Linked DNA regions of Homo sapiens. The protein of the gene in region 2 purifies or fractionates together with the protein of the main gene of each other region. This does not show direct contact. Each region holds a gene or a part of one and is shown on either strand. Other genes may lie near its edges.

What was found. Proteins that work in one complex are often made in the same cells at the same time.
Region 1: the proteins of TUBGCP5 (region 2) and NEDD1 purify together in Homo sapiens (affinity purification with mass spectrometry; 3 studies listed by BioGRID and IntAct, with this or other methods). This does not show direct contact.

What each region holds. Positions count from the first base shown.
Region 1 is NC_000012.12:96,931,079-96,938,256, reverse strand, and holds part of NEDD1 (protein NEDD1), read right to left. Parts: intron 3,282-7,178; coding exon 3,052-3,281; intron 1,647-3,051; coding exon 1,445-1,646; intron 1,060-1,444; coding exon 864-1,059; intron 1-863. UniProt on the Homo sapiens protein: Required for mitosis progression. Promotes the nucleation of microtubules from the spindle.
Region 2 is NC_000015.10:22,998,624-23,001,694, forward strand, and holds the end of TUBGCP5 (gamma-tubulin complex component 5), read right to left. Parts: intron 2,047-3,071; coding exon 1,946-2,046; coding exon of another isoform or gene 1,899-1,945; exon of another isoform or gene 1,661-1,898; intron 1,244-1,660; coding exon 1,197-1,243; 3' UTR 554-1,196; downstream 1-553. UniProt on the Homo sapiens protein: Component of the gamma-tubulin ring complex (gTuRC) which mediates microtubule nucleation.

The DNA of each region.
Region 1 (7,178 bases), on a different chromosome or scaffold from region 2:
TGATACAGATATTCACAGGAAATTTATAGTGAATATACTTACTTTAAAATACTACTCCACACTATCAAGATCAACAAATTAAAGTTTTGCTTCTACTTGGAAATAGCAAAATCATGCTAAAAAAAAACACCAATAAATATTTTTGCCCAAGTATTTATCCTGAAAAATTTAAAAGACATGGATATATGTATTTCTACTAAGCACAATATTTCAGAAACATACTAGTATACCATGTAGACTTTCTAAAGTATTTGTTGCACGTTGACAGTATAGCATAACTTCTTAAAATAAAAATGAAAAGGTTTTCAGGAATTTACAGAATATTTTTTTATTGTGAGCAAGAAATATTTTCTACAATAAGAGAAAGCTTATCATATAACACATCAATAAAGTCTAAATGAATCCTGTTTCAGAACTGTTTCGCCAATTACATGAGAGAAGAAGAAATCATTAGAAATTGCAACATTCTCATTTATTTTTATTTAATGAGATCAAATCATAAGACAGTGTCAAAGTTTCATATTTTCTACTGGTTAATCTGAAGACACAATGAAAAGCCATTCAGTCTTTAGTAGTATTAAGGATGAATAATTTCTGAGTTAGCCTCCTTCCATTTTTAAGACAATATTTCTCACAAGAGAAGTTTAGCTAAACAATAAGGGCCTTTTATCATTTTTGAAATTAATAGCCAAAGTTACTATTTTCACTTCTTCAATGATTTTCACTTCTACTAATTTTACCTAAGTACTCAAATAAATTTGAGTTCTATGTTCTTGAAGAATGTGCTAATTATATGCAAGCCAAAAACAAAAAAACAAAAAAAAAACAAACCAACCCTCCAACAATATATAAGCAACATTTACCTGCTTTTTCTTGAACAGCAACTGTTCCTTTCCCCATAGCTGATGTCATAGGTTGTGGTAGAACTGTGGCAATGGACGTGGCAGGTGCTTCTCTGACAATTCCGGAATTCTGAACTCCTCCACTAGCAGCATTCACATTAACACTTCGTTTGTTCACTGTTGTGGGCTTATTTGAACAGCCTTTATTTAAACTTGACTGAAATGTAATGGAATATTTAAAAGCTCAGGTTACTAATGTTTCATACTATACATTAATATTTTATAAATTCCCTGTTAGATTAAAAAATATATTTTTTTCCTTGCAAATCTTAAGCTTGCTGGCAGACCTGAGTTTCCCTCTAAATTAAAATGTCTTTTAAAATACTTTTAAAAAGAGAGATATATAAGGAGAAAAAAAAAAGAAAAAAAGTTTTAAAACTAAATATCAAATGGCTTTGTACTAAAATTATTATACATTACATGTAAAATCATTATGTAATTATGAAACAAAACTATACTGTTTAATTGACCACATATAATTTCCATATTCTGAGTTAGATTTATTTAATAAAATAAAAAATGCTGAAAAGAAAATGTCTCACCTTAGTAAGAACAGTGGAGTACTGAAATGCTATACACTGCACAGATGTCTTGTGAGCACTGATGGTCTTAACTGGTGATTTCAACATTCTTAAATCATATTGATATATTTTCCCCCGGGAAGATCCAATAGCCAAAGTGGCTCCATCAGGCATGAAATCTACCGCAGTTAGAGGAGTGTCAGCCACTAAAGTTTTCACTAGCCTTTGGAAAGGAGAACAAAGTATGTGTAGAAATGTTAGTGTGTACAGGTATATTAGCTTATATAAGTAACTATATACCAAAACCAGAGTTATTAACACTTCAAACTGGTCAAAGAGCACACATATCCCAAATATTTGTTTAAAGCATAATTTCAGAATTTGACTTAGAGACATTTCTAATAAAATGGCATATAGAGAACTGCTAAACATTCCATCTTACTTTTCTATTCACTTCCAATAGGTACATTCTGCATCTTATAGAAGCAGCACCTATTTCTTTAATTATTACTCTGACAGTGAATGTAGCAGAACTGTCTATTACGCCACAAACAGGGGCTCTGGCCTCATGGTTGAGGAGGGCCTAAGTATCCACTTTCCATTTATTGACCTGCTTAGGCCTCATGAGGACTATGACCTTTCACAGGGGAGCAGCTGTTACTTTGTTCTTAGTTGTACAGTCTTGGCCAAAAAGCTAAGAGGAACACAGTTCACATGCTTGATCCTTAGGAAGCTAATAAAGAAATACGGATGGTGATCTGCTGAAGCTGAGCTCTTTACTGGTGTGTATAGTAGAAAAGAAGAATGGCTTACTGGGCTCTCAGTAAATTGTTCCATAAAAGAAGACAGCAAATAAGTCCTAACAGTAAAAATTCTAGCATCATAATAAAGGCTGACAGTGGGACCTTCCCTTGTAGTAACATTCATACTCCACATGATCTACAGACAGTGGTAAGCATCTTGAATACAACTGTATCACTCTTGCATTCTTTTGTTTTTGTTTTTGTTTTTTAGCTAACTAAGCATACCTAAATTTAACAAGAAGAGGGTACAGTGGGCCCAAATGCTTAGAGGATTATGTACACCAGTACATAATCAGTATTTCTCAAGTGGGTGCTCCCAGGTTGTCCCTGGTTACTACCAGGGGACATCTGACAATGTCTGGACACAATTTAGGCCATTGGTATTTAGTAAGCAGAGGCCAGGGATGCTGATGAATATCCTACAATACCCAGGACAGCCCCTCACAACAAAGAATTACCCAGCCCAAAATGTCAATCGTTTCTAAACCTTCCTCTAGATAATTAATCAGTTTTAAAGCAAATTAATCATTTGGGTTAAAAACATATGCATTTTATCATATTGTGGAAAAGATGCTAAAATTAAAATGTGAAATCATTAAGATGTCATCTCTCTATGTTCATGTTTCAGAAGTACCCTAAATACTACCTGCAACCCATCTATTTCTTTCTGCATAAGAAGAAAATTCTTTCTTACTAGATCCATCAACTGTACAAACTTTAGGACCCCTGGACACTAATCAGAGGTCTATATAAATCACAAATATGCCTGTTAATGGAATAATAGCTATTTGTTACTAAATTAAGAAATAAGCATGTCACACTTACTTCTTACTTGAAGTGTCATAGAGGATGATTCTTTTATCCAAGCCTATGGTTACAAAGAGCAATTCATTGACAGGAGAAAAACAGATGCCTGACGCTGGAGCTTTGTGTACACTGTCAAAGTTATGGTATGGACTCTGACTATTTACATCCCAGAGAGTTACTATTCCATTATCCGAAACACTGCCCAGTAGTGATTTCTTAAACAAGGAGTACTTCAAGTGCCGAACAGACTATAAAAATGAAAGAATAAATTTTATGTAATTATAAGCATTCATAAGGACATTTGATATAAGCCATATAAATTATGGCCAACCACACTATTCACATGGGGTTTAGGATTTCTCTGATGTGTAAGAGTGACAGGTTTCAGCCAGACGTGGTGGCTCACGCCTGTAATCCCAGCACTTTGGGAGGCCGAGGCAGGTGGATCATCTGAGGTCAGGCGTTCAAGACCAGCCTGCCCAACCTAGTGAAACCCCATCTTTATTAAAAATACAAAAATTAGCTGGGCATGGTGGCAGGCGCCTGTAATTACAGCTACTTGGGAGGCTGAGGCAAGAGAACCACTTGAACCTAGGAGGTGGAGGCTGCAGTGAGCCAAGATCACACTATTGTACTCCAGCCTGGGCGACAGAGTGAGACTCTGTCTTAAAAACAAAACAAAACAAAACAAAAAAACCCAACTCTGTCTTAAAAAAAAAAAAGAAAAGAAAAGAAAAGAAAGGGTAACAAATTTCAATCATGACAACCACGGTGTCATTCAGTGGACCATAAGATGACATACCAATACCTGAAACATACCAATCAATAGCCTATTAATATTTGTCATTTTATTATCTTGGAGTATAGCTACCTCAATCTTCTCCTTTCAGAGGAAAAATATAATACATTGAGATTATCTACATTAATTCATCAGGGTTAGAACATCCACCATATATAAAAGGCCTTGTCACAGTCAAATCAACAAGTATAAGGGAATACTGGGAGAAAAAAAAAAAGCAATAATATTTTGTATTTGTTTTCTATATTTTAGATATTTTGATACATTTGTTTGAATCTGAGCATCTGATGCACTGACAATTCAACACCTGAAGCATAATTTAAAAAAAAATTAAACCACAAAGGAAAAACTGGCAACACTCTAGACTGGGGATGGACTATATCCATTGTTTCAAAACCATTAGCCTGAGGGCAATGCTGGCCTTTCTCTAAACACAAATCCCTGCAGGTAGTGGAGATATTCTCTCTTCCTAGCTTCCATGGACCAGAATAAACAAAGATCTAGTTTGAATAAACTGATCTTAGACTAAAACTAACTGAATTTTATCTACTTTTCTTTTTTACTAAAATGTTACTGTCAAACTTGTATTGATGTTGTCATTTACTAGGCGGAAAATTAAGTACTTTACATTTAAGCTAATTTTTCCCTATGAATTTATATTCTACTTAATTCTAAAATGTCTCAAATAATATATATTAGCTCTCAACAACAACAAAAAATGTCTAGGAAATACAGAAACCAAATGCTAAGAAAAAAAAACAAAAAGGAGTTATTAGTCACCTGGCACCTAAGTTAAGACAATTAATATGTTAACCCATTAAATTTGCCCATTTTCATATGGCTAAAGTACAAAGAGAAAATGTTGGTTTATATAATTTTTATTTTTGTTGGGAAAAAGTATATCCACTTGAATAGTCAAATCTTTTCTCTGGTCCATATTCAAGAAAAAATAAACTACATGAATGTTAACTATATAAAAGACACAGACCTACTTAGTGCATTATGTTAATGATTACAGAGTCATACACAACATATCAAAATATAAGGCAAAACATGATTTCTAAAAAGATTTCTACAGCACTTTAGGAGTTCATATAGTTATCGTCCTTCACATGATCTAAATTTAGACTAAATACACAAGTAGAATTTTTAAAAACACCATAAAAATCACAGACCTGGTAGATTCTCGAAGTTCATAAAGTTTAACCTCTTAGCAACAGCAGGAATTTTCCTACAACATCCTTAAAACATGGTTATCCAGAATCTGTTTGCATCTATCAAACAACAAGGAGCTTACCACTGTCTTTAACACAACTTGATAACCAGTTAAAAATGTATTCTTGATCAAGACAAAACCTAAATTCTGTATCTTACTTCAAGTTCTTGGGACCTACATGGCAGACTATTTAAAAAAAAAAAAAAAAAGGCTAAAGATAATGATAAATGTTCCCTTCAGATAAACCTAAGTTCAGTGGACGCTCAGCAAACCTCTGTATGATTTAGGTGAATTACTTAAACTCTCCAAAACTCAGCGTTCTCATCTACATAATAGAAAACACTCTTGTTTTCCTGACACAATTATTTTGAGGATTAAATAGCATTTCTGTACAGAATCAGGTACACAGTAGCCATCACCATTTCCAGAAGTTCATAACTTACTTGCTCATCATTGCTTATGTACCCACCATTCAACCATCTTTTACATATTTTTTAAAAGACCCTTAAGTAACCACATTGAATTCTTTAAATGTCTCCAATTATTTCTGTGATAATACTAACAGAATTTCATTTCTTAACTTTCTATATCTGTTAAATCTTCTCTTTAGAATATCATTAAGATATTAGCTAAGAATCCTGGATAAACAAAACACTGATTTACTAAATTATATATATATAATTTATATATATAAATATATTTACTTGTGTGTGTGCATTTTATATATATATATATATATATATATTTTTTTTTTTTTTTTTTTTTTAAGAGACAGGATTTTGCCATTTTGCCCAGGCTGGTCTCAAACTCCTGGACTCAAGCACTCCACCTGCCTCAGCTTCCCAAAGTGCTGGGATTACAGGTGTGAGCCACCGCACCTGGCCTCCAAATTATATTTAAAATAAATATTAACTTATTTCAGTATCAGCAGCACTTAAGTCATTAACTCCCTATCTTGTTCCAGACTAAATTATTTATAAGAAAAGAATTAAATCAAGAAGCTTATGGGGGGGAAAAAATCCCGGCAGTATAAGCAGCAATGCTATTTTTTCTTATACCACATTATTGTGTAAGAATGTTGCATGTTTGTGGAGGAGGGAGATTGTTTCTAAATATAAAAAACATACCACTCACTAAAGGTGGGGGGAAGGTTTCAAAAACTTATTTAGAAGTAGTTACAGACAATATATAGATGAAAAGCATGGCTGTGTTCCAATAAACTTTACAAAAATAAGTTGGCTAGACCATAGGTTATAGTTTTTCAGTCTCTACTAAGATAATTATTTAATAGAAAAAAATTTTTTTTATCACAAAGAAGAAAAACCATCCATAATCCCACTACCCAGAGAAAAAGTGGTTGACATTTTGAGGGGGTATCCTTTAAGTATTTTTCTGTGTGTATGTATGCTTCTGTGTATTCAGTAGAGTATCAACAGAAAACCTGGAATCATACTTCATTATAAACAGCCATGTCAATGTTTTCTACTTGATTTTAATAGCTGTTTAAGATATGAATGCATGAGTATACTAATTTACCTAAATAATATCATGTTAGACATTTGGGTTACTTCTGATTTGCAAGTACTCTGATTACTATCCTTTTTTAAAACTGTTAATTTATGAAAAAAATTGTAATTCATTGATGTTCATGCCTTAAAGGTTCTCAGTTGAAAATATGAAATGACTATTTGTCTTTCTTCTTTTGCAAACTGCTCATTATTCTACTTTGCCTATTTTCTATTGGGCTATGAAGATTTTTAAAATACTAATTTGCAACTGCTCTTACATTGCAACTGCTCTCATACATTGTAAATACCTTCCCTATTTCATTTAAATTTTGTGAATTTTTGCCTTGCTTTTTGTCAGAAGTTTTAAATTTTTATATATTTATATTTATCAAACTTGTTGCCAGTGACTTATAACTATACTTCTTTATATTTATGCTTAGAAAAGCCTTCCCTTTGCACAGATAAGAACATACATTCACATCATTTTCTTACTAGGCACTATAAAGCAGTAAGAAATTAATACAAACATCTTAACATACATATGAACATACACACATATATATGGCCATAAATATAGTGTTCCTTTGACTCCATCCTATCTTCTTGATTCCCAGGGCCTTAC
Region 2 (3,071 bases):
AATTTTTTTTTTTCGGAGTCTTGCTCTGTCACCCAGGATGGAGTGCAGTGGTACAATCTAGGCTCACCGCAACCTCTGCCTCCTGGGTTCAAGTGATTCTCCTGCCTCAGCCTCCCAAGTAGCTGGGATTACAGATGTGGGCCACCACACCTGGCTAATTTTTTTGTATTTTTAGTAGAGACGGGGTTTCACCACATTGGCCAGGCTGGTCTTGAACTCCTGACCTCAGATGATCCGCCCACCTCGGCCTCCCAAAGTGCTGGGATTACAGGGGTGAGCCACCGTGCCCAGCCCTTGGCTAATTTTTAAGTTGTTTTTGGAGAGATGGGGTCTCATATGTTGCCTAGGCAGGTCTTAAACTGCTGGCCTCAAGGAATCCTCTCACCTCAGTCTTTCAAAGTGCCAGGATTACAAGCTTGAGAAACTACACCCAGCCAAAATATAAACATTTCTAGGACAGCTACATCTAAGACAACTTTTAGGGAAGACAACATGTAAAACTCTATATAAAAAGCTTCTGTGACTGTAGGACAGCAGCAAAAGGATAATAAAATGATTTTAAGTCCTTTAATTTATTTTGAATATCAGTAATTACATTTTCAAAATATGATATAATTTAAAGGTATCAGTACCATAAATCTGTATCTTACAGTAGGAAATGTAAGAGTAAACAGCCTATATACACTTTGTACTACTGACACAATTTTATGTATACAACTCTATACAGTATCTACTAATCTCCAGAAAACCCACCTACAATCCATCTGTCTGGACTGTGGGCAAGTGGTTCTTTCTGAGTCAGGGTCTCACTCTGTCACCCAGGTTGCACTGCAGTAGTGCAATCATGGCTCACTGTAGCCTTGACCTCCTGGGCTCAAGTAATCCTCCCATCTTTGCCTCCTGAGTAGCTGGGACTACAGGTACACACCACCATGTCTGGATACATTTTGTATTTTTGGTAGACACCGGGTTTCACCATGTTGCCCAGGCTGGCCTCAAACTCCTGGGCTCAAGTGATCTGCCTGTCTTGGCCTCCCATCGTGCTGGGATTAGAGGCATGAGCGACTGTGCCAGGCTGACTGTGGACAAGTTTTACAAATAAACCAAAATAAAAATATTTTCACTTTTCAGCTGCACATGGTGGAAATGTACATGTATGATGACAAAGTCGGAGATATTTATTACGCTGAAGACATTTAACTTTGTTCCATGCCAGCCATGAGTGACAACGCTAGAGATTCCACTGTGGGAAGAATAAAAATAAGGTTAAAACAATAGGTTTAAATGTTGAAAAAAAATTTTTTTTGAAGACGGAGTCCCACTGTCACCCAGGCTGGAGTGCAATGGTACAATCTCAGCTCACTGCAACCTCTGCCTCCCGGGTTCAAGCAATTTTCCTGCCTCAGCCTGCTGTGTAGCTGGGATTTCAGGCATGTGCCACCATGCCTAGCTCATTTTTGTATTTTTAGCAGAGACAGGGTTTTGCCATGTAGGCCAGGCTGGTCTTCCAACTCCTGACCTTAAGTGATTCACTCAACCTCCCAAAGGGCTGGGATTAGAGGCATGAGCCACCGCGCCAGGCCAGGAGCTTTAAATTCCTAAAAAAATTTTTAAAAAGACTAGATTTTGAAAAGAAATAGTTACAAAAACTACACGATAGTGAAGTGTGACAGAAATCTATTCTGCCATCAACTTTATTTAATAGGAGTTTTAGAAATCTGTTGTAATAAATGGTATACCAGAAAGTAAGATCCTCAGGCTTACACTCACCTCACCGTAATGCTTAAAAAGCAATTCAAAGCATGGGACAACTGCTAAGGGACTTTTCAGTTTTGAAAATGGTGAGAATTTCTAATTCTTCATGGGATCAGTAACAAAACAATGACACATACACTTAGTTACAAGGAAATACAGAGGTAGAAATATTTTAACATGATATACTCACAATGGGGAAAGGATCCTCTACAGACGGCTTTGTTTAAAATGGTTACAAGAAACATATGGCAGTTTTTAAAATCAGATTCCATTTTCTCTATAGATTCCATTCTAGGAATAAAAGTAAATTTCAATTAAGTAAGTGCATTGCGGGTATATAGGTAGGCTTCAAGATATCTGTGGAGTAATTTCAAATGTATTTTGGTTTAATTATTTAAAATCCTAAATCTAAAGATTATAAAATAAAACACATAACGTCCTACCCTACTTTAAAATAAAAAATGTCAAAGTGTTTCAAAGGAAGTTTCATTAGGATATAAAACTGTGCTGTTTCCAGATAGTATCTAGTTCTGGAACTAGGAGGACCAAAGATACTCCCTTTTCCTTTATACAGTCTTGTTTTTATTGTTTACAAGCATACATTCTCTTTGAAATAAAGAACACATTAAGGATATAAAACTTAAAATCTGAAATTATTTTTAAAAAGGTTTTTTTTCTTTTTGAGATGGAGTCTTGCTCTGTCGCCCATGCTGGAGAGCAGTGGCACGATCTCGGCTCACTGTAACCTCCGCCTCCTGGGTTCAAGTGATTCTCCTGCCTCAGCCTCCTGAGTAGCTGGGATTACAGATGCCCACCACCATGTCTGGCTAATTTTTGTATTTTTTGTAGAGATGGGGTTTCGCCATGTTGGTCAGGCTGGTCTCGAACTCCTGACCTCAGCTGATCTGCCCCCACTGGCCTCCCAAAGTGCTGGGATTGCAGTTGTGAGCCATGGAGCCTGGCTGCCTTTTTTTTTTTTAGACAGAGTTTCGCTCTTGTTGCCCAGGCTGGAGTGCAATGTAGCGATCTCGGCTCACCACACCACAACCTCTGCCTCCTGGGTTCAGCAATTCTCCTGCCTCAGCCTCCCAAGTAGCTGGGATTACAGGCATGCACCACCACGCCTGGCTAATTTTGTATTTTTAGTAGAGATGGAGTTTCTCCATGTTGGTCAGGCTGGTCTCGAACTCCTGACCTCAGGAGATCCGCCCACCTCAGCCTCTCAAAGCACTGGGATTACAGGCGTAAGCCACTGTGCTCGGCTTTCTTTCTTTCTTTTTTTTTTTTTTAAAGAAATATCAAACACTTTGTAAGAG